Regions from separate parts of the Homo sapiens genome. Here region 1 is linked to region 2. Evidence: fine-mapped expression QTL. A gene starts in region 2. The other region holds a variant in brackets. All regions are shown on one strand. Distances are from middle to middle.

Region 1 (16,465 bases), 100 kb after region 2:
AAAGAATTTTGTTGTCCATACTCTAAAAAAAGCATGAGGAAAGCAATGTTTTGTAATAGTTCCAAATGAAGTAGAGGCTGCTCCCTTTGTGACACTCTACTATTGAGAATCCACAGCTCCTTAGCAATGAGACATAGGAGGAAGATAGACTCATCTGGTCCCAGTATTAATAATGCACTGTTTAAATTAACACAGTACATTCAGTTCAATCAAGGGTGTTAAAGTGCCTACTATATGCTAGTCATAGTAGTAAGTCCTAAGTTTAACAAAGAAAAGGTCCCTGCCTGCTGTAATTAACAGTCTAGTGAGATAGAAAGACAAGTAAACATATCATTTAAAGGCTTAAATAGAGGTGTTATAAGGTACTGCGTGAAAAAATGAAGTGTTTGGATATGTTTGTATGCATGTCTTTGGGGGAGGTTGGAGGCTTAAAGGATGTCTGGACAATGTTAAGAAGGGAGTTGAACAAAGAAACAAATACATTGATAAGCATGTTCTAGAAAATTCTCTCTCTTATATTTGTGAGTTTGCATCAGGGGAATGTCAGCAATATTTACCATGAATCTAATTGCCAGTCCCTCTGTGTGTTCATAGAATGCTAATGTGTGTACTATCCCATTCCTATGCTTGACCCATTTATTTTCTAATCTCCAGTTTGGAGAAGGAAATACTAATTTTACCCCAAGCATAATTTCATCTGTGACACACTGTGTTGTCAACAGTGAAGATGCAATCTGGGTAGAGAATATAACCTTAAGACAGTCTTCTTAGAGCAAATAAACATGTTCTTGCATTAACCACTTATTCTCTTTGGAGAGCTAATTACTCTTCCCTCAGCTGGCTGGGGCTGAGGGTGAGGGGCAAGGCTTTGCTGCAGAGAAAGTCAAATATCTGACTAAAAAGACTTTTCATCTATGTATCTGATACTTTTTAAACAATTTGCATCAGCTAAGTGTTATGGGTTTTCCATCACATTTGGAATAATGAAAATATTATGGCTGGGCACGGTGGCTTACACCTGTAATCCCAGCACTTTTGGAGGCCGAGGTGGGTGGATCACGAGGTCAGGAGTTCGAGACCAGCCTGGCCAACATGGTGAAACCCAGTCTCCACTAAAAATACAAAAAATTAGCCGGGCGTGGTGGTGGGCACCTGTAATTCCAGCCACTCGGGAGGCTGAGGCAGGGGAATCACTTGAAGCCAGGAGGCAGAGGTGGAAGTGAGCCAAGACTGCACCATTGCACTCCAGCCTAGGCAACAGTGTGAGACTCCATCTCAAAAAGTAAATAAATAAATACATAAAATAAAATAAATAAAAAAGAAAATCTTATATTTTAAGAAAATTTTATTTCTTTTTGAATTAAAACAAAATGTTCACACTTTAGTCGCTAAGTTACAAGGACAGATTAGTTAGTAGGAGATTATGTATTCTGGATAGCCCAGATTAATTGTTGCTTTTAATGCCCTTTCTAAATCTGATTCACAGATGTATATCATTATGGATGTATATTATTAGTGAGAGTGGGAGAAAGGGGCAATTATACTTCACAATGTCTGAAAAATATTGCTACATAATTCCAAACTATTTCTTTTTCTCTTGGAGGAATACTTTACTTGATTTCAAAGGGGAATTTGTGGACATTCACGTAAGTTAGAAAAATACATCACAAATATGCACCACTGCAGTTCACAGAAGTTAAGAATTGTAATCTAGGGACTCTCAGCAGCAGACATCCAATAATGCAAAGCAGTAATAAAGAAAGGCTTGCAATGAAGCACGGACTCTGTAAAATGTGACTGGAATGAGGCTGAAAGTGTAGAAGGCATGTTGTGTCATCCGGCGTTTAATCAGTGAAGATGGTGGCCTGACTTTGTCACAAGGAACTGCATTAGATAAGAGTACCCTGATTATGTGGTCTATTGCATACTTTGAAACATGGAATTGAAGAGCTAAGAGTTCATCTATTCTGGCCCTTTATGGAGGAAACTGAGCTCCAGGGTGGTTAAGTGACCTGGTCGAAAGAGAAGGAAAGATATCCTGCTTCTGACTTCAGGGCTCTTTAAAGTTCATCATATTTCTTAATGCCATTGGTGGATGAAAAATTAAAACATAGACCTGGTATTTACATTTTAACTACTGTGTAGTTTGCCAAATCAAGATTCCACTATGTTAATGAATTCATCTGATTTTCTAAAGAAAGGCAAAGTCGCTTTGTCGAGTTAAAAGGAATCAACTTAATTTCCGCCACTAGGTGGCATGATGCATTTTTTTTCCCCCTCTGGACACTTTTTGAAAAGGAATCTATCCCTCTCCCTACACCACACACACACACGCACGCACGCACACACACGCACGCACGCGCACACACACACGCGCACACACACGCACACGCCCGCGCACACACTCTCTCACACACACACAGAGATTGGAGAGAGACAGGAGAGAGACATGTTTTCATCTATCCTTTGTGGACTTCTGTTGTTTTTACTGCTGTGAAATTTGACTTGCGATATCTGCTTGTAAAACATCATCAAATCCAAATTCATTATATTCCACTTTTTCTATTACATGGTTTCTGCTTCACTGATTCATATCTGTTTTACCTATTCTGTAAGGGAGGAGAAGCTGCGTTAGGTTTCATCTCTTGTTTAAGTTCAGTTTAATAAATAGTAGATAATGCCTCTTCTCTTTTTTCCTTTTGAAGAGGAGAAAAAGGAAAGAATTGTAGTTGATTCTTATGTAGCAACTTATTCATTCATTCAGTAGCTATAGAAGCGAATTGTTTTGTAGGTAATTATTAACGATGCTTTGGATAATTCCCTAGCTAACTATTCCTTCTTTTCCATCCCAGAAAGCAATGAAGAGAAAAGCTGAAGTCAGTGATTAGGAGTGTCTGTGTAAGTAAAAGCAACAGGCAATTACTGAGTGTGGTGTGAGAGGCACGGAAAGATTGGGAATTCAGCAAGAAGAGGAATTGAAGTCAAACCTCACCTACTTCCCAGAGTCTTCTGGATTTTCTGTTAGAAGCTTCAGTATCTGAGGTAAGGAAAAGAAACTGCAGGACTTACAGAATATACCCTTTCCTTTCCATCCTCTGTATTACTTAATAGGTATTTTGCTTTGTTTTCATTTTTTCATTCCTCCTCTTATCTTCTGCCTTAATTTTCAACTCCATATTACTAAGTGGCATGGTTTTCAAGTTTTCTGTACAGTGTTTTACTATTTTAAATAAAAAAAAATTTTTAGTTTTAAATTGATTTATTTTTCTTTTAAAATTTTAGATTCAGGGGCTACACATGCAGGTTTCTGACATTGAACCCATCACCCAAATAGTGAACATAGTACCCAAAGGAAGTTTTGCAACCCTTGCCCTCTTCCTCCCTCCACACTTTTGAAGTCCCCAGAGTCTACTAAGAAACATCTTTTAGAAAGTAAACAAGCAAATACTTTTGTGGAAGAGCCAGACACTTCAAATGAATTTTGTTCTCAATCCCATCAACATGGGTTTTTAAAAACACTAATACACAGAATCACTCCTGACCAATGGATTCATCATCTCTGGGGCTGAAGGAGGGGCAATTGTATCTTTTCAAAGATCTCCAAAATATCTTGATGTACCCTGAGAATGGAGACTTTCTGAAATGCAGCAATATGCCATGTGTCATTTTTTTCCCTTTAACCAGCATCCTGGTCTTGCGCCATTTTCCTAGTGACTCATGCTTGAAACACAGCCATCTTGGTTCTCCCCTCTGTTGTTCTTGTGTGTAGTTAGTTCCTAAGTTCCGCGTCTTTCATCTCACTAATGTTTTATATCTTTCCACTTTGTCACATCGCCATTACCATCACCCCAATTCAAAGTTTCCCACCTTTCTCTTTTCAACACAGATGTATTTGACTTCTTTTTCCGATGTTTAAATTTACAATTTTTGTTACACTTTGGAATCGCAAAATAACAAGAGAAAAAACATTAGGAGAGGAGAAAGTGATATTATCATGAATAATAAAACTCTTGTTTCATGTGTAGCACAAATGAAAATCACCCCCAAATCTTTTTCTTCAAAAGGAAGGAAAATCAGCATCTGAGAGGGTTGAAAAATAAGTTCATTTTTTTCCCTTGCAAAGTTACTGAATTGCCACCTACTGGTTTTACTATAAGAGTAAGAGCTATATATCTCTTGTTCATCATTGTATCCCTGGGAAAAGCAAAATGTCTTGTTTTATTAATTAAAATTTTATTAGTTGCAAGTAACAGGAGCCATCCTGACATAGCTTATACAAAACAGGTAATGTATAGTTAAGCTATAGAGCACAGTGGTAGAATTCAGGCTGGTCTAAGGAAATAATTGCAGACAGGCCATGGAGAGGCTTCAGGGTTTTACGTTTTGGGGGTGCTTATTTTATTTTTCCTCTTTGCTCTATACTTTTTTGGGCTTCTTAGGTCAATGTGGCATTACATAGCTGCCAATGCTTTCAAGTAGGTAGAGTACAATTTCAGTCATGAGCTAGGATGAACTAGCTATTTCCTAGCAACTTGCCTGGGGACCGGATCTAACTGGCCCAGCTTGAGTGAGATAATGTACTCTGGTCAAGTCAGCCACAAGCTTAGGCACTGAGACTATTGTCGAAGGTCACCCCTTACGAATGGGGAGTTAATGTGAGCTGGGAAGATATCCCAAAGGTGTCTAATGCACTGACAAATGGCAAAGATGCAACAGATATTTTGGATAAATAAATGAATAAAATAATAAATGAATGAACCAAGAGACTGTTAGTTTTGGGTAGCATAATAAACTCAGATTGACAGATAAAGAGCAATTCATTAGGCATCTACTTATTACCAGAGGCTGTAAGGAATAAAAGCTGAAAAAAAAGAGGAGTTCCTGACTTTAAGGAACTTGTCAGAAGAGGTATCATTAACAAATAAGGAGAATATAGGCAGTGACAAGAAAAACACAAAATATTATGTATATTCTGTCAACTGAGAGATCATAATTTTACTTACATTAGTTAAGATATTGTCAGCTGCTGAGGAACTGAGAAATCTCAGTGGATAAACACAGTATAATATTTTATGCTATGTAAAGTTCAATAGGACGGAGGGCTGGGTTTGGGGTTTGGGGTGAACAGGAGGGCAGGATCTACCGCATGGAGCCATCAGGAACCCCAGAACTACCACCTCCAGCACGGACTTCCGCCACGATCATACTGCCAATCAAATGCAGCCAGCACAGTGAAAGGAAATACCCATACAGAGGGTATAACTACTTCTGCGGACAGCCCATTGGTCAGTCTACTTTCACATGGCCATACCTTACTAAAAAAGAAAGCCGGGGACTGTAATCTTGCCGCATCCAGGGAGAAAGGCAGTAGTGTTTTGGGAATTGCTAGCCAGTGACCACTATAGCAGCATTGTAGTTATGGCAGAGTGGGTGGGGGAGGAATAATTTTTAAAAAATTATGGAAGAAATGCTATAGTTAGACCATCTTTGAGGTGTAGGTCTTAACTGTTGGAAAGAGAACAGCAATTTTTGAAAGAAAAAAGTAATGTAGGCAAAGATCTGGAGTTGGGGAATAACTATGTTTTAGGAGTGTTGAATATGAAATAGCTGTCTTGAAAGTATGATAAGAACTGAAAAGGTAGTTATCTTTATTTGGCTATTTCTTTTGAACATATCTTTCTATTAACTTCAGCACATCAGTTTATTTTTCCAGGAAGTGGATTTTGGTTAAAAATTATGCTGATAAATAGTGAGGAGAAACAAAAGTTTGGAGGAAAAGTAATAAAAACTTGATATAAGTATCTATACTATTTCTTGTCTTCCTATTCTGACCTTCTGCATTCTAAATTGAAACAACCACTCTAATTTTCTTTGTAAAATATCAAGTTGGCTTGAAAATTGTGTGTAACAGCAATACAAATGTAGTTTTCAAAAGCGGGGTTTAAATCAATAAATATTAATATATTTTTATTTTTATTCCCTGCATCTCTTCTTTCTTAAATCAAATATATTCAGACTAATGTATTCATATGTTAATATTATTTTTTTCTGGGATGGCATTAATTTCAACTAAATATCTTAAGAGAGTAATGGGAGGGTTTTTTCCTTCTTGTTCAGAATTTCTTTTAAATCCGACATCTGGTATTTGGCACTTGACTTTTACTAGACCAATTGAGCACTTTTAAAGGGGAATAAATCATATGACTTTCATTTTAATTTTTACTGTAATGGTTTAATGCAGCCAACATATGCTGAGTAATAGTATTAAAATAAAATCAGTAAATGAGGGATTAAAATTTGCCTGAGTTCAGTTTTGCAAAGACACTAATTAGAGAAAGGTTTTTCAGATCAGAATTGGATAAGCCAGCAATTTTTTAAAATTGTAATAATATACTGAGAAATATTTGGGTTTGAGCATGCTGTTATTGAGAAGGAAAAATTACAAGGGAAATTAACACCTTTGCTCTAATGCGAGGCTGTGGGGTGAATCTGGGAACCCTTGCATGCCCGTTTCTCCACTGCCAGAAAGTATCCAGACAAACACTGAAGACCAATCCACATTTGCTTATTTTAAACAGAGATACTAACTTGAAAACTGGAAATATTTGAGTTGGACTAAGCAGGATGGAGATTTCTTGACATCATAAGGAGCATTCATTTAAATTTCTCATTTCAGAAACTTGAATACTAGAAAGGCTTTCTATCCCACGCCTTACTTTTTGGCAGCCAGCCAGTTATTTTCTATGGTTCTAGTTATTGGGGTACGAAACAGTTTGCAGAATTAAGTTAGAATTTTATTTATAGCTTTGAAACGTCTAGCTAAATGTTCCTAAATATGGTACTTCTTGGTAAACAAATAAAAGCGAAATTATTTCTACATCAAAATTGAGCAAGGAGAAAATTAATGGGCAGTATTTAGCAGTTTCTTTAAATTTCCTTCAGTTATGAATAGCATAAATAAGAAAATTAAATGGGTTAGTCTTACTACAGAGACCTTAATTCTAAATACTTTGGGTTCATATATATGACCAATTTAATTAAAGGAGGTTTTGACCAGCAACCTAAAACATGCCATATCATACTATAAGAAATGGGTTTTCTGACTTGTTAGATAATCTGGAAAGGTGTTGTTCTGATTAAAAGGATAAAAGGCTTTTCTGTTCTGTGAGGTATAAAAAGGAATTCTTTCAATATCATGAATAGAACCACTCATGTCACGTTCACTTAGTGGTTTTCAATAAATAAGGAACATGATTGGTTGCACTTTGCTATTTTTAGACATTCACTGTAGTATAATTTCTTTATATTACAGAAATCCAGAACAGGATAAATCAAATCACCGGTTCAGTGTGCTAAATTAGCATATTCAGCTCTTGAAGAATTTATGGAAAACGGCTTTCAAAATGCAAGCATGTCTTTGTTCTCTTATATTTCTTCAAACCAGTCTCTCATTCATTTCCAAATATCTAACATTTCAGATTCATTTTTGCTTTCATTTTTTGCTCTCTCCTTTTCTAGACAATGCCAAGCAGACTGGGTAATATAGGAGAAATCTCAAGAAGTACCATGAAGTAATGCTCATCTCAAGACTTCTGCTGTTTGCCAATTTTATTTCTTTTCTTCTTATTGAGATAGTAATTCCCACTATGAGATTCATTAGAAATCAGGCATTAAGGTTGGAGTCTTTCCTTAAAAGATATTAATATACACAATAAGAAAGGAGGTATTGAGGCTGGTGTGTTTCTTCTGTTTTTCAACTTCTTTTTTTTTTTTTTGAGACAGGGTCTCACTCTGTCATCCAGGTTGGAGTGCAGTGGCACAATCTTGGCTCACTGCAGCATCCTCCTCTCAGGCTCAAGCAATCCTCCCATCTCAGCCTCCCAAGTAGCTGGGACCATAGGCCTGCGCCACCACACCTGGCTACATTTTTTGTATTTTTGATAGAGA[C/T]GGGGTTTCACCATGTTGAGCAGGCTGGTCTCAAACTCCTGAGCTCAAGCGATCCACCTGCCTCGGCCTCCCAAAGTGCTGGGTGTCTTTCAACTTTTCTATTACTTTTTGTTTGTATATTACTCTTGGTGAAACAAAAAAAATTGTAAATTGTAATATATGTTATTTGTCCTCAGGAGTTTATCATGAAACAATCTAGGAACAAACTAAAGCTAATAGTAAGTAGAGAAATTAAATAAAACCACCTAAAATAAATGTGATACAGATACTAGCCAGGACAAGGGGGTTCCGATGGGCAGAAGCGTATAAGTCCAATTTATGTGTAGAAGTCGCTTGAGTTGGGCCTTGGGTTATAGTATAAATCAAGAGTGGGTATCTTCAGATGTAATTGAATGGATGTAACAGAGGTAAAATTTCAAGTACCGTAATGACTAATATGGCAGTGACAAATTTTGGGGAGGCTAGGGTACCACCTTAAGTGTGCCAAGTCATGAAGGAAATGCTTAAGTTTGCTTAGCATCTTTCCGAGACTCACACAAGGAGGATTTGGAAAGATGTCTAATACAACCAAAAGAGGAGAATCAAAAGATCAACAATGATTGCTTTAAAATGTTGGCTTCTGCCAGTGTTGCCCCAAGTATATTTATCCCTCTTCCTTTCTACTCCTCAATTTTCAGACACTTTGATGAAACAGAATAAAACTGTACTTTTTTTTTTAGATATTCCTATGCATTCTACTGCTTTAATCCCACCTAAGTAGAGATGTCCACAACAGAGAGAATGGAGCTGTCACATCGTTTCAACTGCCCAGGTAGTTCCTACTGGATGAATGGGATTGTCACCTTCACACCTGCTAGAGGCTTGGAGCATGCAAGAGTTTTTTTAAATGGCTTCACCTTTCTTATGAAAATGCAACCACTAGTACTCTTCCAATAAAAGCTTTTCTCAAGTGTGAGTATACACTTGGCATGGAATATTTTAGCTATTTTCTCTCTCAGGACTCATGTTTTATTACATAGCATTTAGTCTCAACATATGTGGATACATATTTTCTTTCTGATAGTTATTATGCTTTTGTTTCTTCATATTTGTTTTATTCTTGATTTGAAAAAATTAATTTCAGAGAAACCTCCAGACTACACGCAAGCCAGTGCAGGCATTTGATATCATGAAGCTATGAGAATTCCCAGTTATGGGAAGCCCTGATGTCATAAGAAAATTAGACCAGCTTAGCTCAGAACAGTTTCAATGAAATACATTCATTTCACACTGTATTAATATAATCCTTGTATTACTTCTTTTTATCAGTCTCACAAGTCTTAATTTTTCCAGTCAGATATAAATAAGACACAATGCAAAAGAAAGCTTAAAGAGGGAGAGGTGAGGAGATTCTTTGAGGCCAGGAGTTCTAGACCAGCAGGGCAATATAGTGAGACTCTGTCTCTTAAAAAAAAAAGAAGTAAAAATAACAAGAAAGCTTAAAGAATGGTAAATATCCCTTTAAAGTACATTTCTTCCTATGTCAGTCTCCAGGTTTTCTATCCTAGTTGTCACTTATTAACTCAGAGTGTTCATATTTGTGTTAAATTGAGGAAAGGTGAAATTCATTCTGAGAATAACTATTCAGACATTGATAAAAAGATTTGTTCTCTCTGGGCAACATTCTAGGTCAGTGAATTTAGCATTGAATAAGATGTTATTTTGTATTCAAATAACAGCTGTATCTGGTTTACCCCTTGTGGCGCAGTGAGGAAAATTAGGCAATGTGTAAATATAATTTTTGTTATTTACTATGCTACATATTCAATTAGCTTGAAAACAAAAAACAAACACCAAACCACTCATTCCACCGTATAGCCCAGAGCTACCATTTCCCTCTCTAAGGGGAAGAGAACCTAAGCATTGGCTAGGAGCAGCTGCAATTAGAATTTCTTTCATAGACTTTCCTGAAAACCCAATAAAAGAAGTAGAAAGGAGAGGCTGGGCCTATTACATTTATTGGAGGCCCACAGCCTGGTTTCTATTAAGTTTGACAGTATTTATTTTTGAAGCTAGAATCATGTACTTACCTATGATTGCAAACATTGTTTTCAAAATATCAAATAACGAATGTGCAAAAACTGAATAATAATGAAATGGATGGAAAGTGACAAAACGGAAATTCTTCTCCCCCACAGCAAAGGCTCAAAAATTCCAGAGAGTGGACAAACATGAATACTTCCTGTTTCACTGTAAAGGTTTTTGGTGCTTAAATTTTAAGTCTCCATTTTCAGTCTGTGATTGTCTATCAATTATATTTAATTAATGTTTTTATTACAATAATATTGTGCCATCAGTTACAAAATATTTTATAAAACAATGCATATTCGTGTTATTGCCTTTCAAGAAAATTCCAGAAAATTCATAGGGATATTCCCCTCAAATTTTAATGTTATAACATTTCCCGTGTAATAATGTGTCTTAAAAAGTTGCCACTTATAAAATAGTTTTCCCGTATGACATACCCAAATTCTGGGTCTTGTCCAAACCTTTATGTTTCTGTCCTACAACATTTTCTCATTTGATAGTTGGTCATGTGAAAAAAACATGTTATGTTTTCATGTTATGTTTCTCTAAGTAGAAAGATTTTTCCAGTGAACAAAATCTTAGCTCAATGTTCCCAGTAAGAGTCTGAACAAGCAATCTTGGTATGTTGTAGAACTTCAAGTTCTGTTATGAGCAGAATTTCCTCACAAATGTAGCAAAATTATTGCTCTTACTTTTCAGTTTTTCTTGTCTTTTTTTTTTAATGAAGGACTTGAAACCACCAAATCTTATTTTCTTTCTTATGGATTCTATTAATTATAATGCATATTTGAAAATTGAAGCTTTGTAGTTATTAAACTACCTATTACTTCTGATGTTACCTTTTGGACAAATGGTATTCATTTAATTTTGGGTTCTGTGAATTTTTGATTTTACAAGAACCCTTTGGCTTTAGAAAGAGAATGAGAACATCTCTGGATTCTTTCACCCCTTTTTAACGGTGGGGCTCCGTGTACTTTCCACTGAAGGAGTGAGCATTGTCAACTAGTTAACACAAGCTATTGGAAAAATCCCTGAATTTTGTATGGGAAGAATAATTGCACACAAATGCACTCAGGAATCCTATGGAAAATATAGTGCTGTTAACTGGCATGGTTACAACACAATTTAGCAAGTATGTTAGAACAAATTACCCCCTTTAACCATAAGCCATTCTGTTTCACGCTTCTTAATGAAGGCCTGTGCCACACACTAGAATACTTCTCACCTCATTACTACTCATAAAAAGCAATGATCCATTCAAAGTCTCCTCATATCTCCCATATGAGTGGTAAAGAGCTTCGCCTCTCATTCTGGCAGGAGGACAGGGAGGCTTCTTCCCAGCCTGCCTTTGAAGTAGGTCATTAGAATGTTTACTAGATAAAAGGACTCAAAAATTTATCTGTGTAATCTCACTGTTGTCATGTGTTAATGTTCTATCCTTCCTTTAAAAACAAAACAAAACAAAGCAAACAAAACCCAAAGACATTTCTGTCCCTGTTTAGAGAATACAGGAGATTTGTAACACTCAGTGCAATTTTTCTCCTGCAGTATTCACAAGATATTTTCAAAGAAACTCTAAAAAGCAGGAAGAATTTAATGGGCCACTGAAATACAAAGTATGGATTCAATAAAAAGGCAGGAAGAGAAGCAAGCTGATAGGCCAGTTAAGAAGAAACAGTCCAATTTTAGAATTAAACAACTTTTTCTCTCCACGGAGTGTCATCAAAAGGAAAATAAAGTTGAGTATCCTTGGAAATAACATTGTATCGGTTACTAATGAACACGATTTTCATCTAGACTGAAATATTTTTCCCCTATTAATTTCAGGGACAATATATAATACTACTTAAGATGCATTGTGCGTGCTCAATAAAATTTGAGCTGAATGCATGCTTTTTAGATAATGATGATAAGTGGAGAAGGAGGAATTTTTTCATAATTTTTTTGAAGACATTCTAGGTCTAATCCAACTATAAAATTATGTGTGTATATGCATGTGTGCATATATATATATATATATATATATGCACATATTTTAACATCTGACTGTATAATAAGAATGAAAAAGGCTATAGAAGAGTAAACATATCCGAAAATACTATTTAACAACATTAGAGCATTTCAATTAGCAGGAGACATATTTGTCATCTCCATGACATACGAATTTCCATTTTGGCTATTAGCTTAATAGTATCCAAAAGAATAGCAATGTTTGCAATTCAAGAAAAAGCCCATACTAGGTACCAAAACAGTTTGAAAACAAGGTACTAATATCTAACTTCTGTAATGCAATAAAACACTGAAATCTGACACAGATTATAAATTTAAATGGTGTTTAAAATCAATTTCTTTGTAGGAAAACTACACTTAATATAAACTCTCTGATGACATTTCCAACCTTTCTTTGTGGTATCTCTGAAAATTTATCTCATCACCTGATGCAGTACCGTCAAACCCTACCCAACACTTACGCTGAGCAGTTTCTAAATTAAATTGCTATTCTCCAGGCGCTTTCCCAGAAACGCAAGCTCACGTCAGATCACACTCACAATGCTACAGGAGGGAAATGTTGGTACTGTATTTTAATAGGCCAGGGGAAGCACGTGCTCCTAGAGACCAGTCGGCCCCTGCGATAATAACTGCACAGCTTTGTTTCATTTGAAAACATACATCTGTACACACGTACTTACTCAGACATATATCCATGTATACAGAAAAAAGTTCAGCTAATAACAAAAGAAAGGATGAACATTGGCACTGTAGATGTTGACAGCATTATGCAAACTTTTCAATATTCCCTTGCATGCTCAACTTTAACTTTTGTTTATAAATTCCACTTAGACATAATTTACAACTTCTGTTAACTTAAGCTGGGTTCTGTAAATCTGTCTAAAAAAATCAGGGCAGAGTGCTTTGAGATGTTACAAATATATCTAGATATCAAACATTGAGCTGCACAAATTGTATCCACTTTGGAAACTCTAAGTTTGTATTTATGTCCATAATATATTTTAGTTCTGATGTTTTTAAAATGATGAAGCAAGTCTTACTCTTTTTTTCACCCTGCCTTTTCCAATCCTTGCTGAAATATCTATGAAAGAGACTTATGAGCCCAAGACAAATAAAATGAGAAATTCTGGAGGTTGTCACGATTTAAAAACACTTTGTAAGGTGATTTGAGGAGAAAAAAATACAAAAGTCAGGCAAAATTTCTTGCTAACTACCTGAAATTTGTAACTTTATTCTAGTATAGTTTAAAAACTTCAATACATAAAAATGTTATAAAGCTTTGTATCTGTTATTTCACCCTTGCAGAGCTGTTGCAGAGATCTTACCTTCTCATCTTTTTTTAGAAATAGTTGAAATGTCAGAAAAATCTGGATTAAAAGAAAAGGATAAATCCCACCTCTTTAGTAATTCTTCCTATTTATAAATTGCTTTTGCGATCAAAGACAGAAATTGAAGCTCTTCTGAGAGTTTGAATTTTAAAATAACAGAAAAGCAAAACACTTGGCTTCAGTTTTTTTCATTTTTTTTTCACTTTCCTTGAAAGAAGCAGCTGTACTTTTCACTCTGCAGTTTTGGGAAGAATGGAGAGTCCTGACTGATGCCCCTTTAAACTGAAAAGAGAACACTTAGCCAGCAGCATACATTTACAATAGGCTTTGGTTGGAGTGAATTACTCTAATTTGGGGCAGGAATTAAAAAGATTAAGTGAAAAGCAAAATAATGGAGAATAAAACAACTTGATATACTTTAATAAAATGGTAGTTTTTAACTATGAATATACAGTTGTAAATCAAGTATTAATATTAAAAAGGGGGGCAATTCCATATCAAAATGCAATTGGCTATGCATGTGGAGACTTTCTTAAAGAGAGTGTCAGATTCAATTGCATTATTTTCCAGTGGTGGAAGATAGCGGTTGATAAAAAGGTATAAATTGACAGGTAATTTTATTCAGAAGTAAACTTATGCTTCTATCAAATTTAAATTGCTTAGCAACAACCAGAATAATTTCGACTGATAAGGTTATTGTCTTTTCTTCTGCTGGTATGTTGCTGTCTCTCATATTTCAGTGATAATTCTCCAGTTCACGGCTGTACGTGTGGATGATCAAAGAGAAGCATTTTAGCTCATGTATGGTACAGCTTCCTTTAAAAGTTTGCTCCAGCATTGTCCAAGCCCTCTTTGGTGACCTAAATACCCTCCTAGGCTAGATTACTCATTTCCATGGCTTCAGCTACTATCTGTCCTACCTAAGTTTTCCAAACTATATTTCTAGATCACTTATGTCCCCCAAGCTCTAGCCCCTCTTCCTGCTTGAATGCCTTATAGGCGTCCCAAATTAAACTTCTGTTCTTCAACCCCTCCTTTCTTACTTGGAACCCTGTATTGGTTCATGGCCTTAGCACCCACCTACTTGCTCCGGTGAAATCTATGAGTTGTCCTTGTTCTTTCCCTTTCCTTCCGTTTCCAGTGTAATCCATCACAAATTCTTCAGATTTTATATTACTAAATAACTGCTACACATCACCCCAGTCCAGGTCACTGCCTTCTCTCACCTAGACTAGGGCAACAGCCTCCTGATCTTACAACAGCAGCATAAGGATGAGATGCTGCTGGCAACAACGAGGTAGGGGTGATTGCAGGCTCCTTTGAGTTTTTCCCGAGTATGCAGATCACCCCAGCAGGAGCTCTTCACCCTAATAGCAGTGGGCTCCAGCCTCCCTGCAAAACCCAAAACAGCCTCACTGTGTCCCCACAGATACCATCAGGATCTGTTGGCCAGAGTCCCTTGCTCCGAGGTCTAGGTTCCAGCTCTGGTCCCTCCTCCAAGCTTCTAGGTTCTAGTAACCCTATTCTCTTCTCCTTGTACTCCTAGCCTTAGGGATTCCTGTTTCTTGAAGTTATAGTCTTTTGTTGTCTCATGCCTATGAAGCAATTCTCAATTCTCTTTGTTAGACTTACCAATGTGGTTTTCCTGTTTCTTACAGACTTTGGCCGATAACACCCTCACGGCTCCAGACAGATAGGATTTTTAAATTCCTCAGACTCTTTATCGTTCTGCTTCTTGAGTTTCCCACACTCAGTTCCTTCTGCTAGAAATGTTTTCTGTTCCTGTTCTCCTTTCAGCTCTCTCACCCCTTAACTCACAGCTTTTGCCTAGGCAACCCCTTTTGGAATGCCACTTCCTCAGGGAGACCTCGCCGACCCTCTAGACCAGGTTGAATCTCCACTCATCCTTCCTCCTCCTCTGAAACCAATCACACCACTTTCTTGCCTGATGTCCGTCTTCTCTCCTGATTTAAGCAACAAGAGGGCAGAGAACATATTTTGTTCCTACCCAGTACCAATTTCTATGCCAAACATATTGTAGGCAATCAATGTTGATTATTGATTAAACTTAGTTTCTTATAAGCAGAAAAATATTGGGTAAAGTTTTTCAGCTAAGGATATAATTTTAGATTTTTTTCCCTTCTCATTTTAGCAATTCCAGGTATATGGGCAAAGAAATGTGAGACTTTTTTTTTTTTTTGTCTTGTAGGGACTTTATTTCACTCATAATCTCCGTCAGGGCCCCCTCCAACTCCTGGTACCAAGTTACTCTAAATAAATATATCCTGTAAGCAAAAACTCTGCAAATACTGTATCAAGGAAAATTCCCTAGTTTTCTTTCCACCTAAAAGATGACCCCTATGCCTCTCCTTTGGAAACATTCTGGAACTGCCACTGCTTTTGCTTTTGGACTTTAATTTCCCACTTGGCTGTTGTTTCTGTTACGTGCTATTTCCAAAATTCTAGCTCATACACTTTTTCTAGAGTCCTACAAGCATGAAGAAGTACTATTAATTCAGTTGAAGCATTTCTTTTTTGTTCATTACCTCACAAGATGACTTTTGCAGTTAAAGGTCCCAGTAATTTCTTTAAAATTTACAAAATTGTTATAATATTGCTATATTAATGAGAATAGCCAAGAAAATATTGTGTATCTCAAAGAAAGTGATTTTATGACTGTGGACAGAAGTGTTTTCACAAAAAAACTAGAAAATGAAATCATTTTGTTTGGAGCAGCTCTTCCCTTGTCTTGCCCCCCATTGCTCCCCAGTAGCTGCGGTCAGCCCAAGCCCATCACTGCCTCATGCCGTGAAGACTGCCCTCCCAGGTGGTAGGAGTTTCCCATCCTCACCTAAATCAGTTACCTGTTCTTTGCTCCACCTTCTCTCAGAAAAATGAAATGGAAAAACTAATACAGATTAATAAATTAGTGGCTACTGAGGGCTAAGGAAATCAATTTCAGGTAAAATATGCATCTAAAATGGAATTTTCTAATCTCATCATATCTAAATTGTGCCTTTTGAATGGTTTGTATTTCTTTCAATAGCAGATAGCAGATATTTAACACCTCTGCTTTATTATTGTTTTGTAACAGACTGCAGAGGTTTAGCAGT
Region 2 (16,465 bases):
TGTGAAGGTATTCAGCTGTTAGTTGTATAGTGTTAAGATGGGAGATAAAGGCTAAGATACTGTTCTGGGAGAGTCCTCAGCATAGACATAGCAGAAGAAACTAGAGGAGTTGATATGCATTGTGATATTGTCATGAGCACTTAGCACAGTGCATGGCAAGCTGTAGGATCTAAATACGTGTTGTATGAACAAATTGATTTTGACAAGTGCTCTCAAATCAAGCATCCAAAAATCTCAAAGTACTTTAATAACATTCCTTGTATATAAAAAGTTACCATCCTGTCTCAATTTAAACAATCTTCCAGAATAAAAATTTTAAACTAAATAACCAAGGTGCACTCTGTTCAGAAAGGTTTCCTCCTGCCAGGACATGAAGTATTCTACTTAACAAATATTCTTTTTTAGCTGACAGACTGTATCTGACCCTTTAATTCGAAGTACCGAAAACTAAAACTTTAGCATGAAACCAAACCAAATTATATCTTACTCTGGTGATTAAGATGCATGCAAACCCAATCCTCAGCCAACCCCAAATGTTTCTTCTAGTCCTCAGAAACCCAGGTTTAGTTGTTTTCACACTTCACTGAGGTTTAGGATTGCAAGGCATCTTCTAAGTTTTGTCTCATTGCCCTTGATTCCTTGCTGTCTTATAATACAACTACAAGCCTCAAAAGAACCAAAACGAAGCTGTTCTCTTCCATCCTCACTGCCTTAGAATGTGTTGTGTTCTTAGCAGAAATGAGAAGAGGAGCCCTCTTCTTCTAGAGTTTAGGTGTAGTCTTGGAGACCCTCCTTACTCTCCTCCACTGATTCTGCCCTTGGCCCTCGGTGCCTAAGTTTCTCCTCTATGCCCTTCTCTGCATGCAAAACAAGCAGACATCTCTGGGTCACCAGCATCACCAATTTCTCAAACAGACCCACACTTAGCTTAGGACCACCCCAGTGCTCCTCAGCCTCTGCAGCCAGGCACCTGCCTCATAATTGGGGGACTATAGAGTTTATTGTCTAAACCAGGACACTTTTGAGAGTGCTAAAATGCTAAACCAGATGGTACTTCAGGACAAAAGGCATAAACTTAGGATGTGTGGTTACCCTACCCACGACTATAATACAATGTGATAAATGCAATAATAAAAGTTTAAACACTTTGCAATGGAGACATTTTGAATGTAACGCACCATGGGGTCAAAATTTGTTTCCAATCAAAAACATCACTAAATTATGTTCTAATCAGCATCCATGATAAAAACCATGGCGTTAAGCTTGGGATATTTGTATTATGCTGCACAGCAGAGCCCTGGCTCTGGGAGGAAATACTTTTCCAGCTTCTTGGGAATGTATTTTGTAGCTCAAAATTCCTGCAGGGGAGCTCATTTTGCAGTTTGGTCAATGCCATAAGGAAGCAAGTCTCAGAAATCTCTGAAAAAGTTGTAGAAATATTTCTTTGCAAAACTGATAATAAAAATCCAAATTATAGATCATATTTATCTTACATTTATTGTGCTAAGGGCTTTGTATTATTTAATTTATTTAGCCTGCAGAAGTATGCTCTGAGGAGATAAACATGACCATTTATAGAGGTCACAGGCTAGCGAGTCCTGGATCTACTGATTAATCTCGCTCTGTCTTTGCAGCCCTGAGAGGATAAGTGCTTTCCAAAGCAGAGGAGCAGTAAAGGCTGAGCCCGGGAGGCAGAAACAACATTGGTCCATGCACCATAAAATGTAAGCGCCATGAAAGAAGACACTGTTATATTCACTTCTCCATTCCCAGCACCTAAAAAAGCCACTAAAACATGATAAAGGTCAGGAAATATGTGAGGAAGGAAGGAACTCACAGAGGGAGATGGGTTTGGAAAAAAAAAAAAAAAGGCAGAAGCCGTATCTGGCAGGGCCTGGTAGGTAGTAGCAAAGAATCTGAATTCTATTTCAAGGGCAATAAAACATTACAGAAAGATTTTAAAAGAGGAGTCATGTGATGTGATGTATGTTTTTAAAACAATCATTCCTGACTGCTGCGTGAAGAGCGGGTAATAGGCTGGAGCAAGAGTGAAAGCCCGGAGTCCAGTTAGCAGGCATCTGAGGCTGTTCAGATGGAAGGTCATGAAGGCTTAGAACTGGGTGGCGGCAGTGGAGATACAGAGAACTGAGATGGTGCCATGGCTCATGCCTGTAATCCCAGGCCTTTGGGAGGCCGAGGTGGGAGAATTGCTTGAGCCCAGGAGTTCAAGACCAGGCTGGGCAACATAGTGAGACCCCCATCTCTACAAAAAATAAAAATATAAAAATGAGCTGGTTGTGGTAGTGCACACCTGTGGTCCCAGCTAGTCGGGAGGTTGAGGCGGGAGGATTGCTTGAGCCCGGGAGATTGAGGGTGCAGTGAGCTGAGATCACACTACTGCACCCCAGCCTGGGCGACAAAGGAAGACTGTGTCTCAAAAATAAATATATATATATATATCGCGAGAGAGAGAGAGAGAGAGAGAGAGAAAAGAGGGGAGGAGACGGGAGGGGAGGGGAGGGGAGAAGAGGGGAGGGGAGGGGAGAAAAGAGGAGAGAGGAGGGGAGAGGAGGGGAGGGGAGAAAAGAGGAGAGGGGAGGGGAGGGGAGGAGAGGGGAGGAGAGGGGAGGAGAGGGGAGGAGAGGGGAGGGGAGGAGAGGGGAAGGGAGGGGAGGGGAGGGGAGGGGAGGGGAGGGGAGGGGAGGGGAGGGGAGGAGAAGGGAGGGCCTGAGAACTCCTGGATTTTTGGCTTTAAAAACCGGACAGCTGCTAGTGCCCTTTACTGAAATGAGGAACACTGGGAAGGATAATGCTTAGAAAGAAATGCAAGGGAGTTTAGCCATTAATCTAGATAAATATAAAAACTAGTTAAGGATAAGATAACTGTTTATAATAACATATGAAGTAAAAACCCTAAATAAAATGTTTACAATAATTATAATTATGAAGAAAATGTATATTGAAAATTTTGAGTAGAAAATATGGTTACATGAAAACTTTGATGTATTGAGGAGTTATTGAGAAATTTGTGGTTTTAAAAAATTTTATTGAGTTCTGCTCTGCTTGTCATACTATTGTGAACTAAAAAGTAAAATTCTCGTAAAAGACAGTAAGTCTATGAGAAAAGCCTAAAATGATAGTAATCCAGAATAGAATTTCATCATAATAAAGTCATTAAAAAGTTGACATATTTTGTAATGGGAATTAAAAATAAAAACACTAAAAGCTCTATTTCTAGGTCCTGAAACCCAAAGCAGAATTATTGCAGTGAGGGTTGGGGGGAGGGTGGGTGAGATTTATTCCTTTGTTTAAACTAACTGAAGGTAAAATCCCTTTACATTTAAAATTGTATTAAGAATGGATTTTTTTTTTACTAGTAATACCTTGGCTTGATTACATTATGATCTATAAATACATTTTGTATGAATGACTTCTCCATGAAACAAATTGTAGTTATCAATCAGTAAATTTGTTAATTGAACTATGTGGAAGGCCCTGAGCTAAGCAGAACAGATATAAATTGGTGCTTGATTGTGTATTGAGAGGAATTGAGCCTGACTTAAAAGTTTTTCCCTAACTTCGAAAAATAGCTTCCCTACAACTCTGATAAATGGAAAACAACCACATCTATCAGAAACAACCCATATTTCCAATTTATGTATAAAATAATATATCCTTTGCTTATTCACAGCTGTTATCAAAACTCATGGCCAAATGTATAAACTCTGCTATGAGGCACACATTTTGAATGTGTTGAGAATTATCACAGCCAAAGTGAATATCTAAGGAGAAAAATTTCAGCTATAAACATTAAAATGTTAATGTTTTACTAATAATTATGTCCTTAGACACACAGTCTTGTTGGGGAGAACATTTTCACAAAGAAAAATATTTATCTCTAAAATCTCACTTTATTTATGTATTTTTAGAGAGTGGGGTCTTGCTATGCTTCCCAGGCTGCTCTTGACCTCCAGGGCTCAAGCAGTCCTCCTACCTTGGCCTCTCAAGTAGCTGGGACTACTGGTGAGTGCCACCATGCCTAGCTAATATCTCACTTTTGGATTAGAGGCTACTCATCTGAAAACAAAGATACAGATTTCATATGTTAGACAAGCACAGAAAAATCTCAAACTCTATATTTAAACAACCCTACAAGTGTTCTACATCCTGTATAAACCATTTTTCAAAGACGGAAAGATTTTTTTTCTTTAATCTCTTTGGGAGATCTAAAGATGCATAAAGATCCAATTTCATTGAGAGAAAGAACACAATTCTTTACCAAAGAAAAGGTGTGATTAAATGAAGTAATTGTGTTTCTTTGCTATAAATGTGAGATCTCACTTAAATGGTCTCTGAAAACAAAATACATGCATAAAGGCCCAATTTCACTGAGAAAAATATCACAATTCTTTTCCAAAGAAGAGGTCTGATTAAATGAAATAATTTTATTTCTTTGCTATAAATGTGAGATCTCACTTAAGTAGTCTCTGAAAATAAAATATATTCATAATTGCATGTATGTACATATGGGCATATGTGTTTGACTACTTATCAGCATGGATGTTATTGTAAGATGTTAGTGTTTTGGACACTAACCCCCCACATCAGCAAATCAAAGTGTGATATCTAAATTGATCTAGGTAAATTTGAATAAAATTGAACCAACGCTTTGTGGTCCTTCTGCAAAGCCAGATGTTCAGACCCTTAGGCAGATTTCATAATCCACACATCTGGGGGCACAGAGAAATATAGGGAGGAAAAGAGAAAAATCTCTTAAGGTAAGCTGGGGGATCTTGTAGATGGGCCACTAGGGAACACAGCTGGCTCTCTTCTTGAAGAGATGAGCCCCAAGCAAAGAATGCTTTGTAAAACTGAACACAGAGTGAATCCTGACCGTTAGCTATTAACTGTAGAGCTCAAAAAGAGACTTTACAAATATCATTACAAACAAAATATGGTGGAAATTTTCATAGAAAGCCACATTCTTTGTACCAAATTTTGCTCTGCAATAGGCAGTCACTTTTGCACACCTTGCCACCTAGTGGATAACCTGAAACCTACAGGATTTTTCCCCTTAATTTCCATGCTCTGCGGAAAAGTTCCCCAACTCTACCAAGGGAAGGTTATTTTGTTTGTTTTAGTCATTGGTGCTCCGAGAATTGTAGTAAACAGTCAACAAATAGTTGTTACATTAATAATAAACATTAAGTTGAGGCATACTTCATTTAAAAACTATTGTTATGGGGAATGTAATGGAAAAGATAGACAATATGATGTTGGCAAAATGTGTTTCCTAACTGAAATGAAAGTTTTGAATTATTTCAAAAGCAAATGCTGGGGGATCTATAGTTTCCTGTTAGAGATGTATCTACATAGCACATCAGGAAGAGGAGCCGGGCGCGGTGGCTCAGGCCTCTAATCTCTGCATTTTGGGAGGCCAAGGCAGGCGGATCACTTGAAGTCAGGAGTTCAAGACCAGCCTGGCCAAAATGGTGAAACCCCTGTCTCTACTAGAAACACCAAAATTAGCTGGTGTGGTGGTGGGCACCTTTAATCCCAGCTACTCAGAAGGCTGAGGCAGGAGAATCTCTTGAATCCGTGAAGTGGAGGCTGCAGTGAGCCGAGATCATGCCACTGCACTCCAGCCCGGGCAACTCCAGTCTGGTCAACAGAGTGAGACTCTGTCTCCAAACAAACAAACAAAAAACAAAACAAAAGCAAACAACAACAAAAAGAGATGTCATTATTGCTCTGTGTAGACAAATCATCCAGATAATTTAATTTAGCCATTGAGAGCCTACCCTTCTTTCTTCCAAGATATCCCAAATAAAACTAACTGTAAAAGCAAATATCCTTGCTCCTTTGTCTAGACACCATTGCTACTTTCATTCTTGCTTTGGGCTGTGATGCTTGCTACTCCCTTTTTCTGCTGTCCCAAATTATGAAGCCCTTTTATTCATTTAAAAAGAATACCTATGCATATGTATAAATATATATATATATTTTTCCTTTTTCTAAATAACATTTTATTCATTTTGACCATGTGACTCATTCGTATGGTCAATGAGCCCAAGGTGTTGATGACTCTTAAACATGTTTCTCCTAGCATAAATATTGGTGGCAAAAAGCAGAATAATGATCATAGTTTTGAAATAGAGAATACCATTAATGTCTTTGATTTTTGAAAATGATATTTTAAAAAACAAACATGACTATGTCGTGATACCTTAAAATTCAGGCTGAAAACAATTTATTAGGTAATCCACTTCAGGTTTCTTTTGCAGGAGGATTATTTTCCATTTTCTTATGGATTATTTTCCATTTTCTTGCTAAAATCAGCAAAACATATATACATATAACAATATACCACTAGTTCATTAAAAGAACTTATTCTTTTTGTTCTCAAATCAAGCTCATTTTAGATTGACAATATCTTAATGCATTTTAGGAATATATTGTCAAGATTAAAATCTTACTTTTTATTAGCTGAAGTTGTATATATTCATTATATAAAACTGACTTATGTTGCATAGAATTAAAACCCTCCCCAGAGTTCATAGTTTTAAACAAATATGCATACATATCCAAATACATATTAAATCCAAAGCAAACAATAACTTTATGTTGACAGTGAAAAATGCAACCTTACATACATAGTCTACAAAACAACTGAAAAATTTTAAATGCCAGATATGAGGAAGCCAAAGAATTTTAACAATGAGAAATATGTTATGAATTAAAATATTCAATCTTGAAAACCTTTAAAAGTGAAAGTTGCACTGTAACTGCTTTCTAAGGTAATTTTTGCCACTTTTAGGAAAAAAGATGTTTACGTAACATTTTTAAAAGTACAATCATTTCTTACATAGCTTTATGATTGAGGATAACATTAGTATGCACATACAACATAACACACAAAAGCAAAGCTTAGAATAACATTTTAATTATGTTTTAGTGTATGTGAAATAATTTGTTTTTCTCAATTATATTCCTGGGTCAAGGCCTAAAACATTTATTTGAACCAGCTATATATCTTATTTTCATAAGGGTCTCAGGAGGCAGTAGTCATATGTTGTTACTTCAGCCCTCCACAAAGGCAATACAGTACAGATCTCTGTACTGTAAACGACAACAAGGACCAGTCACAATTTCAGTTCTTGTTACATTGATAAGACTCCTTCAGGTAAGAGATTAAAACATGCCTTTATTATTATAAGGTTAGTGACCATTTTAATGGAATAAAAAGATTATTCCTGTTGCATTGGAGATAGGAAATTTGGGATGTGAATGTATGAGGTAGGTGTCTTTTCTCTCTTGTGCCTGTATTGTTCAAAAGCTCTTTGACATTAGAAAAAGGTTAGCTCTATAATCTTAATATTAATATTTAGTATAAAATCTATGGAGAACACACATTATACAGGGAGCCAAAAAGTTCAACTCTTTTTTTAATGGAGAGAAGGTAAGTAGGTGATCTTCACAGACTAAGAGGTTTTGCCTTTTAACACCAACAACATAATACTATTTATATTTGCTCTATCATTGTGATTAACCTACCTTCCCCTTCCAAAAAAACACACTTAGCTTACTCACCTAACAGTAATGACATATATCATTTTAAAAACAAAGAATAGTTTCAAAATTAATTTTTTCTACCTAATGTGCGTGACTGATGTTGAAAAGTTAGTGAGGGTTACCCATATATTCACACATGTAAATTGTGGAAATAAGAGAGAGAGAAAAAACTCAACAGATATAATCTGTAAAGCTGTCAAAAGACTTTCAAATAGCGAATTCCTTCAGATCATATATTTCAATAGAAGTTGCTGTTTAAATAGAGGTCTCTCATTTGGTGGGAGGAGCTTTTAAAAGAAAAAATACTTGAAGATAAGTAATATTACCTTTGCCATTTGTTATGAAATAAATATATCATGAGGAGTTATGCTTCATTAAAATGTAATACTTATAGATGACAGTTTCATATGGTCAGATATAAAATGTATATATGTTTTACCAGGAAGATTATACAGTATTTTTAATCTTGATTTTTCATGACTTCTTGCAAATATGCATTTATTGCTTTCCAAACCATGCCTGGGAATGAAGGAGAAAAAATTGTTTTATCCGAAGAGTTAGCTGTTCTTCCTTGGTTCAATCAGGAGTAAGTTCTGATATCATAGAGGGGAATGTATTAAGATAATTCCTAAAATATAACTGTGCTTTTACTGTTTTGCCTATGCTGCCAGAAAGTTAAAAACATTTTGTTTCAAATAACTGTGTATGTTTAAAAGTCAAACCTATTATTTGCTATATTATTTGTCATGTGCTATAATTTGACAGAGGGGCAATATTTCTCCAAAAAGTAAAATTTTATAACCAAAGGCCATCAATTGTACAAACGACTAAGAGAATTAAATTTTATTAAGTTGGAAATGTAATTTATTCATTGTAACTGTTTTAAGAGAAATTAAGTGAGCACTTTGTATGTAGTTATCTTAAATGTTACGTGTATTCTTTTAGAAACTCTTTCTTGTTTTCCTTCTTTTCACCTTCAGTGTCCTGGCACGCGACTAGCACAAATCAAACCTTATCTGTCATAATAAACTATAGCGTTGGAAATTCTAAAGAGACTAAAAATTACTTAACGTCTTTAACATATTTGAAGTAATATTTATGAATAAGGGAGGGCTGTCCATTTTTGAGTTTCGTCGCGCCAATGGTTGAGGGATTTTCTCATTATCATCTCCTGATTCCCAGAGAAGAAAGCCAGCCGCGTGGCCTTAGGACCCCTGGCCACCGGGAGTGGAGGAGCGGAGGGTCTGCCCCAGCTACCCCTGTGGCCACCGCCTCTCCCTCCAGGTGTGTGTGGGGAGGGGGCTGACAGAAGCAGGAGGCGACTTGCTGAAGTAGGGAGGCCAGACTGAATTTTTCCAGGATTCCGGGACCTTATCTCTAGGAAGCACTTAAGGACTTACTATCGCATTCTTTATCTCACTGTCTTCCGACTGCCAGGCTGGGTGCCCAAACTTTGGCGGCTTTTTCACAGTTTCAACGGCAAGGGTGGGAGTGGGGCTCGGGAGCTGGAGAGGAATGGCACGTTACGCCCCGTTCGGTTTCAAGGCCATGATTGCATCGCTCTCTGGAACGAAGATGGCCAGGAATTCGGGCAGGGAGAGGAACCACTCAATGGCAAAGTTGGTAGTAACGTCGTGAATTGTAAAGAGGGATAGCCCTCTCCTGCAGTCTCCAAGCAAAACCTTTTTCGCAACATGGGTGCCTGTCCAGCTTAATTCTTTGCTATCTTTCTTACTCGTGTTTTTGTTAGGGGACCGTTATAAAGTGAATTTTTGAACTGCTGGGTTGAGAAATAAACAGGGAAGGAACTGGGAAGATTCAAATTAGCTTCCACCGACCCTATTAGAGGTCCCTGGGCAGGAACCCCCCTGGCCACAAAATGTCCCGCAGGAGGTCTGCCTGGCGGAGGCGCTGCCTGGCGGAGGCGTGGGCTCAACCGAGTGGGCGCTACCACCGCTGGCTTCGGAGAAGCAGCCTGCGGAGAGCGGTAAACCGCAAGGGAAGCGCTTCAGGATCTGATTGCTTTTTAATAAAAAGATATGTTTGTAACCAGATGGAACCATTCTGGCTCCTTTATCGAGAGCGCAGCTTGGCCGCTTGCCTGGCCCTGGGGCTCTGGCCACAGCCTCTGCTGGGTTCTGGAGGAATTCAGATCTAAAAATAAATGATCGGGGATAATTCTTCCCCGAGGCGAACGGCTCGAACTCCCCTCCTCCACCCGCCACTGTCACAGCAATTCACCTTGAACTCTAAGGCGGATCGTTCCCACCTCCGCTCAAGGGGCCTGGACGCGGCGGTGGCTTTGCAGCCTCCTGCACCCGGAGCTCTGCTGGGCATGCTGCAGCCAGGACCCGCACCAGACTGCTCCAGGCGCCCTTAGGGTCCTGCCGGCTGGGTGGAAGTCAACACACTTTCAGTTAACCGAGGGGATTGAAATTGGATCCAATGAGGGAGGAAAAGCTGAAATCCCTGCTCTCTGGAGCTGTAGAGCACCAGGTGGGGAGACATTGCAGGTCAGAGGATAAGTCCTCTGCATTAACTGCGGCGCAGTTCCCTGTACGTCTAGCAAACTAGGTTTATGGTCTACGTGGGTCACAAGCGCATAAATCATTGTCAGCCCCGACAGTAGGTGCAGAGCTCTCTGCCTCGCTCTGGCCACACCAGCCTTTAGACAGGCTAACTGAGGGGGGGGCTCGGCGCGAAATTTCCCAGCCTAGAATATTTGCCTCGAATCTTTCTGTCCAAGTCTCCGAGACAGCTCCAGAATATGCGCTTGCCCTTTTGATAGACCCGCAAAGGGCGCGGTCTGGCAACCAAGCGCATCTGTTCACTATGGCCTAATGATTGTCCTGCAGTCAAAGAATCCAAGAGGGCATCATCTGATCTTATTTTATGCGTGAGGAAACCTGACGCTATCCAGGTTAAAGTGACATTGCACGAGGTCACACAAAGCTCTGGTAAAACTCCTTGATCCTAGGTTTCTTGATTCTCGCTCTCACACCTGGCCCCATCCATCGTCCTGCCTCAAATATCCACTGTGTTGTAGAGATACCAGGATCTGAGAATGCCTGTAGAGAAGGACTCATTATTTGTTGTCTTTGCAATTTACTAGTACAATTTTCAATATGATAATTTCCAAAGTCCCAGGAATGTACTTCAGATCTTCTTCCTCATTCTACCTCACAATTCACATAGGAGGAACCCCAGTGGCAGCCAGATATCGGGGTTTTAGACACCCAGCTGCTTCAGCCACTGAGCCCTGGGTTACCAGCACTTAAACAAGTCAAGAAAAGGAATTCCTCGCTGAGCCGGGAGGACTGGGAGAGATGGGGGCTCGGACTTAGAGAAACGCTGGAGAGAGACGAGTGGTCAGGCAATCAACTTTCACCTTCTCACAAGCTATTAGTAAAGGGACTGTTTTTTGTCCAGCAAACTCTCCCCTCAGGCATGCAGGGCTTGATGTTATCGTGATTACTTTTCGCTATTCACATTAATTATTTTAAGACAACACACACACACACACACACACACACACCTTCTCACTTAGAGTCAATGCCAACTTGAGCCATTTCAAATCGTTAGTCCTCTTTGTGAATGTGTTTGCATTTTTAAATCTGGGTTAGAAATTTGGCAGTCCCTCAATTATTCCTGAAGTGAAAAGGCCACAAAGTGGTCTCTTCCCTTCTTTTTTTCATTCAACTCTCTCTCTCTCTCTGTCTCTCTTTCTCTCTCTCTGTCCAGGAGTTGAAAAGAGAAACTCCAACCTTCAACTGTCAACTGTTTTCCAAACATCAGATTAATGTTCCCCAGGACTCGGTAGTAACGTGACCTTTCTGTTTTCAGATGTGTTTTTCAACATGTAATCGTTTGTTTGTTATGTCTCTCATATGGAATAAAGAAAGCTGGGGGAAGGAGTGTGGGCTGCCAGAGGCAGGAAAAAAAAAAAAAAAAAAAAGGATGTGGAGGCTGTTTTTGTTCCTTCTTCAAAATGCTCGAATCATTTTATTTTTAGGCAAGTAGTCCCCAAGGGAGGAAAATCTACAATACTCGTCCTGAAAAGAAATCCAAGCACTTGATGAGCAATTATTTAAACATAAACATCCCCAAAACAAAAATCTAATAAATTGATTTTAAAAAACATCTTGCAGGAGAGGAATTTCTGGGATGCAGGTAACGCTCTTTATCTTGATCTAAGAAATTCCATAAGAAGGTTTTAAAAAATAATTTATCAAACTTTTCATTTATGCCTCATGCCCGTTTTTGGACGGTTACACTTAAATTACCATTTTTTTTTTAATTTGAGAAAGGAAACCTCTAACGTGTGTATATTACTATATTCTACATCTTAGTTCTAATAAATTTCCAAACCAATATATTTATTAAACGATTAAGAACTTTGCCACTAACTTGTTTTCTGAGTAATAGGTTCTGAATCAAAGTGAAAACAGTATACTTGAATTAGTTATTCGAAAACCAGCATAATTATTTCATCACTTTCTAATATAGTAAAATGTCAAATATGCAATGAGTTTAAAGTTTGTTTTACGAAACCCCAAAGAAACCAAATAGTTATTTTGTTAAAAACAAAAGCTTTATACTTAAAAAAGAAAAAGTATTAAGTTGGTGCAAAAGTAAATGCGGTTTGTGTCATTTGAAAGTAATGGCAGAAACCGCAATTACTTTTGCACCAACCTAATATTAACTTTTTTTTGAGACTAACTCTTATTAGAAAACGTTTTATTCCAAAGAGGAATTTTAAAAAGCCATACTCAAAGGTGAATTTCTGCTACTAGAAAGATGCCAGTTTTAAACTCCTCCCCACCCCCATAAAATATTATTAGGCCGCTTTCATGGTTAGTGACTAAGCATTTTACCAAGAAACCAAAGACTAAATTGCTCCCCTCAATTAATCAACAGCTTTTATCTCCGGCATCAGCTTCACTAATGACCTCACTGCGGCCCTCCAATCCTTATTTTGTGCTTTCCCTTATCACCGTCTTCCAAATCACCCCAATATTTCTCCTGCCCCGTTCAAGTTAGAGGCATCATGATCCCCATCTAGAAAGCAATTTCCTGACGACTCGCTTAATTATCGCCCGCTCCCCCGCCCCCACCTTCCTAGCTCTACTTCCCTAATCGACCCTTTATCACCCGGGAACAATCGCTAAGCCTGAGCTGCCCACATGGAGGCTTCGCTGCTGCTTTACTTTACAGGCCCTTCCGCGGTTTTATGATTGGTTGCTGTGGTTGGAATGTTTATAGATAATAAACAACTAATCCATTTCTTGCCTAATGAATTGCCCCACCCGCGTACCAGTTTAACACCCGTAACTAGCTCCAGGATCAATCTGCGCCAGCGACCGAGGGGATGAGGGGGGCGAAACCACCCAGCCTCACTGCCGCTTAAAATCAAAGCCGAAGAACTCTAGGTCAGCAGACACCTATTTCCCATTTTCCAGTTCCTCTCCTCCGCGACCCCCCACCCTCAGCTAGGGCTCGGCGCCCACCTGCTCCTCTGCCCACGGTCGAAGGAGTGAATTTCAAAAGTGCTTTTCTTGGCTTCTAAAAATGTGAGAGGGCGATCCGCGAGCTTGGGCGCGCTGCCTGCGAGACTGGCGCGCCCACAGGAACCGGCACTCAGGTGACGGGCTGAAACTGGTGCCTGCAGCGACTGCTATTTTGGCCCAACCAGCCTCTTCAGGCTTCGGCGGTACACGCCCCGGGGGTAGTTACAGTCCTCCTGGCTCTGATGAGTCTCTGCCCGCGGAAGATCAAAAAGGCTGAGGTTGGCAAGGGCGTTCCTCCCGCACCCGACGGCTGAGAAGGAAGATGGGCAGGATAGGTAGTGGGGAGGGCACAATCTAGTTAACACTCGGAATCCTGTCTGAAATAAAGGAAAATGCATGTTCAGACTCCCAAGAGACCCGGAAAACGCGGAGGATCTGCCAAAAGCATTCCAAGAAGAGAAGAAACCAACGCCAGGGAGAGATTCTTTTATACACATTATGGCAGCTGCACATGGCTTCCGTCAGTAACTGGGGCCAGGGGGTGTGAGGACGGTGACCGGGAGCCAAGGAGAGGGCCACGGGAACCGAACACCGGAGTCCCTATGGTGTTGCGCTGTGGGAGTCCAATGTCTAGTCCTGGAGCCTCCGAGAGCGCGCTGGTGGTCCTTTGGGACCTTCCCTTTCGGTAAGGACCCAGAGGAGGGAAGTCGAATAGGAATGGAAACCCGAAAATCGCAGATAGGTTCGCTTACTAGAGCTGTTTCTAAAACCCACTTAACAGCCAGCTGAGCTTTCAGTGGAGAGACTTCCTTTACTTACACAGTAGTTTGAAAGTTCTGCAGTTTTGTGTTTATAGATTTAATTTTAGAAAGCTAATGTGTATGCCACCTTCCAACTGAGCCCCCTGTTCCAGGATATCTTCTTTCCAAGATCCCAGAGAAGGACCCTCAGAAGCACTCTCTGCGGCAACGCCCCCATCTTATTTACCTGTGATTTTACTTCCCTTTATTATAAAGAGTAGGCGAAGATGTCGTTGGGTCAGTACTTATTTTACCAGGTGGCCAATTCTTCCCAAAACTCTGGCAAAGAGCACTTTAACCCCTGTCTTTTCCTTCTTTCACTAATCTTGGCTGGGAAATTCCATTTTTCACCGGGGTGGGTGGGTGGGGTGCAGTGGGGATGGTAGTGTTGCTTCTAATGTTCTGTCATTCAATTCACAAATATTTACTTGATGCCTACTGTTTTAGACACTGGGGACACAGTTTAAAGACACACATGCACACAACAGTTTAAAGACACACATGTGCGCATACACACACACACACACACACACACACAGACCCTTTCCTAGAGCTTCCACTCTAGAAGGAGTCTCAGGTTAACATTAGGACTCACTTTGGGCTGGGAGCTGAGAGGATGTGATTTTTAACAGAAACGTAAGGAACAACGCCAATCATCTGGTCAAAACTTTTCTCTGTGTCACCTAAGAAGTATCTTCATTATGTGTAGTTTAAGTCATAGCCTTTCCACAATGTAATTGATGTGCTTAATAGCAGATAGCACTCTCCACACCTTTGTGCTCACAGAGGCTATTTTCATTGCTGGGGTGGGGGGTAAGATGAAGGGTACTCCAGGCCATTCTCAACTGGTGTTGGTCATTGTTCAACTTATGAAGTCAACAATTTCAGATTTTTAGTGTCCTGAAAATAATCTTGGCCCCCACATCTTCAGTAACACAATGCCGACTTCAAGACAAAAAGCAGGTTCTGTCCCTCACTGAGAGAGGGATTTTTCTCACTCCATCAGCACTGAGCTTGGATCTTTTACTTACCTGAGGTCTCATTCTCCTCCTCCTCTCTAGGGGAGTAGGAGTTGCCTGGGAAAGAATTAGCAGCTCCTGAAAGGCAGGTTTCTCCATGCATTGACTGATTTTGCTGGAAAGTTTTTCCATTTCTCTTTCTCCACTGAAAGTCTCCTCCTCAGTGAGAAGGGAAGCTGCCCATTGAACACTGGGGCAAGGAAGCTCTCTGGGCCTTCTTAACTACACGGGCCACTCTTGCTGAGCACAAAGATACAGATTTAACTACCCCTTAACAAAGAAGAGAATTAAAAATGACCCACCAAAGAAAACTAGAATAAAAACAAAGGCAAAGCGGCCACCGCGAGCTGTTTGATTATTTTCTCTGACTTTGCTCTTTGATTGGAACCTGCCTCATCAGAAATAAAAATAAATAAGAACACAAAACGTTGATTGGTTCTTCATCAGTGAATGTGTCCATGGCTGATACAGAGAGAAAAGAAAATAAATCCTGATTGCTTAATGAAAAGAAGAAAAAAGTAATTTGTATAAATAGAGCTTTAGAAAAAGGAACTGAAGAACCGCGCAGGAAAAGGCTGCCTGGACCAGCGGGACATTCGCTGACGCGAGGGAGCTGGGGATTCTGGAGTGAGTCTTTGCGGAACCCGCGGCAGCCCTTAGAGAAACTGAGCCACAGATCAAACAGCAGGGAGCTGGCCTTAATTTTATTTGATCATCAAAGGATCGGATAACTCAGCAAGGCGTCGATGTCTGCATTTTAGGAAGCACTGAAAACTTTAGAAAGGTGTTTGCACTTCGGAGTGGCTTCTTCTGCACGTGATGCACAAAAGAAAAGCCTCTTACCCGCAGGAAAGTACGGCTGTTCCTGTGTCTTGACCGTGCCAGATCCGGTAGACACCGTGTGAGCGCTATTGACTGTCCAGCGACTTGCGGAGCTGAGAGCGTAGTGGTGGTCACTTCCCTGAGAGGTGGTGCCTACTGAGCTGGGGACCCAGAACGCTACTCTTCAGCCTCAAGTAGCATCCTGGAGGTCTCTCTGACAAGGCTGAGAGTGTTCAGGGATCATAGCCTGCAGAAAAGGGAGAAAATGCGTATGAAAGCACTTTGTCAACTGTAGAGGATTAGATGGCAAGATTACCATGCGCTTCTGAAAATTTCATATATAAATGCAGGGACAATTGGTAAGAAAACAGTAGGTAGAGTTCTGGTTTCGTTTCATTGTCTCTGTCCCATGTCCTTTAGTTCCCACTGTCATCCGAAGCTGACGTTTACTGAAACTTTACTTGTAAAATCCAGTGTTTCTGCTTCCTTTTTCTTTTGTAAAGTTAAGCTGCTCATAAACTTGGCTTCAGAATTAACCAGGAATCACTCTCCATTCAGAAGCACAAAATTACCATTTGTACAGAGGTATGTTTAAAGGAAACTTCCTCTAGTGTAGGCCTGGAAATGTGGACTAATAATTCACACATAGCGAGTCACAGCTATGACTCCAGTTTACTTCTCACGTTAATATAATGTAAAAACTAGCCACAGTAGGATTTTTTCTCATTTCATTTAAAAAATTGCA

What was found. PIP is the estimated chance that this variant, and not a neighbour inherited with it, causes the effect. A credible set is the group of variants that fine-mapping cannot tell apart.
Region 1: its variant is the best candidate, but not a certain one, in a credible set for the expression of LINC02268 in gastroesophageal junction (GTEx, PIP 0.55).

What each region holds. Positions count from the first base shown.
Region 1 is chr4:174,106,474-174,122,938 of GRCh38, reverse strand. LINC02268 (long intergenic non-protein coding RNA 2268) reads left to right here. Exons shown (of 5, transcript NR_125896.1): 2 at 2,853-3,042. Among named protein-coding and RNA genes, the nearest start is that of LINC02268, 110 kb to the left of the region's middle. The variant C/T (reference allele first, on the strand shown) is at 7,948.
Region 2 is chr4:174,211,032-174,227,496 of GRCh38, reverse strand. LINC02268 (long intergenic non-protein coding RNA 2268) reads left to right here and starts at 7,099. Exons shown (of 5, transcript NR_125896.1): 1 at 7,099-7,183. RefSeq lists enhancers at 12,361-13,021, 13,132-13,191.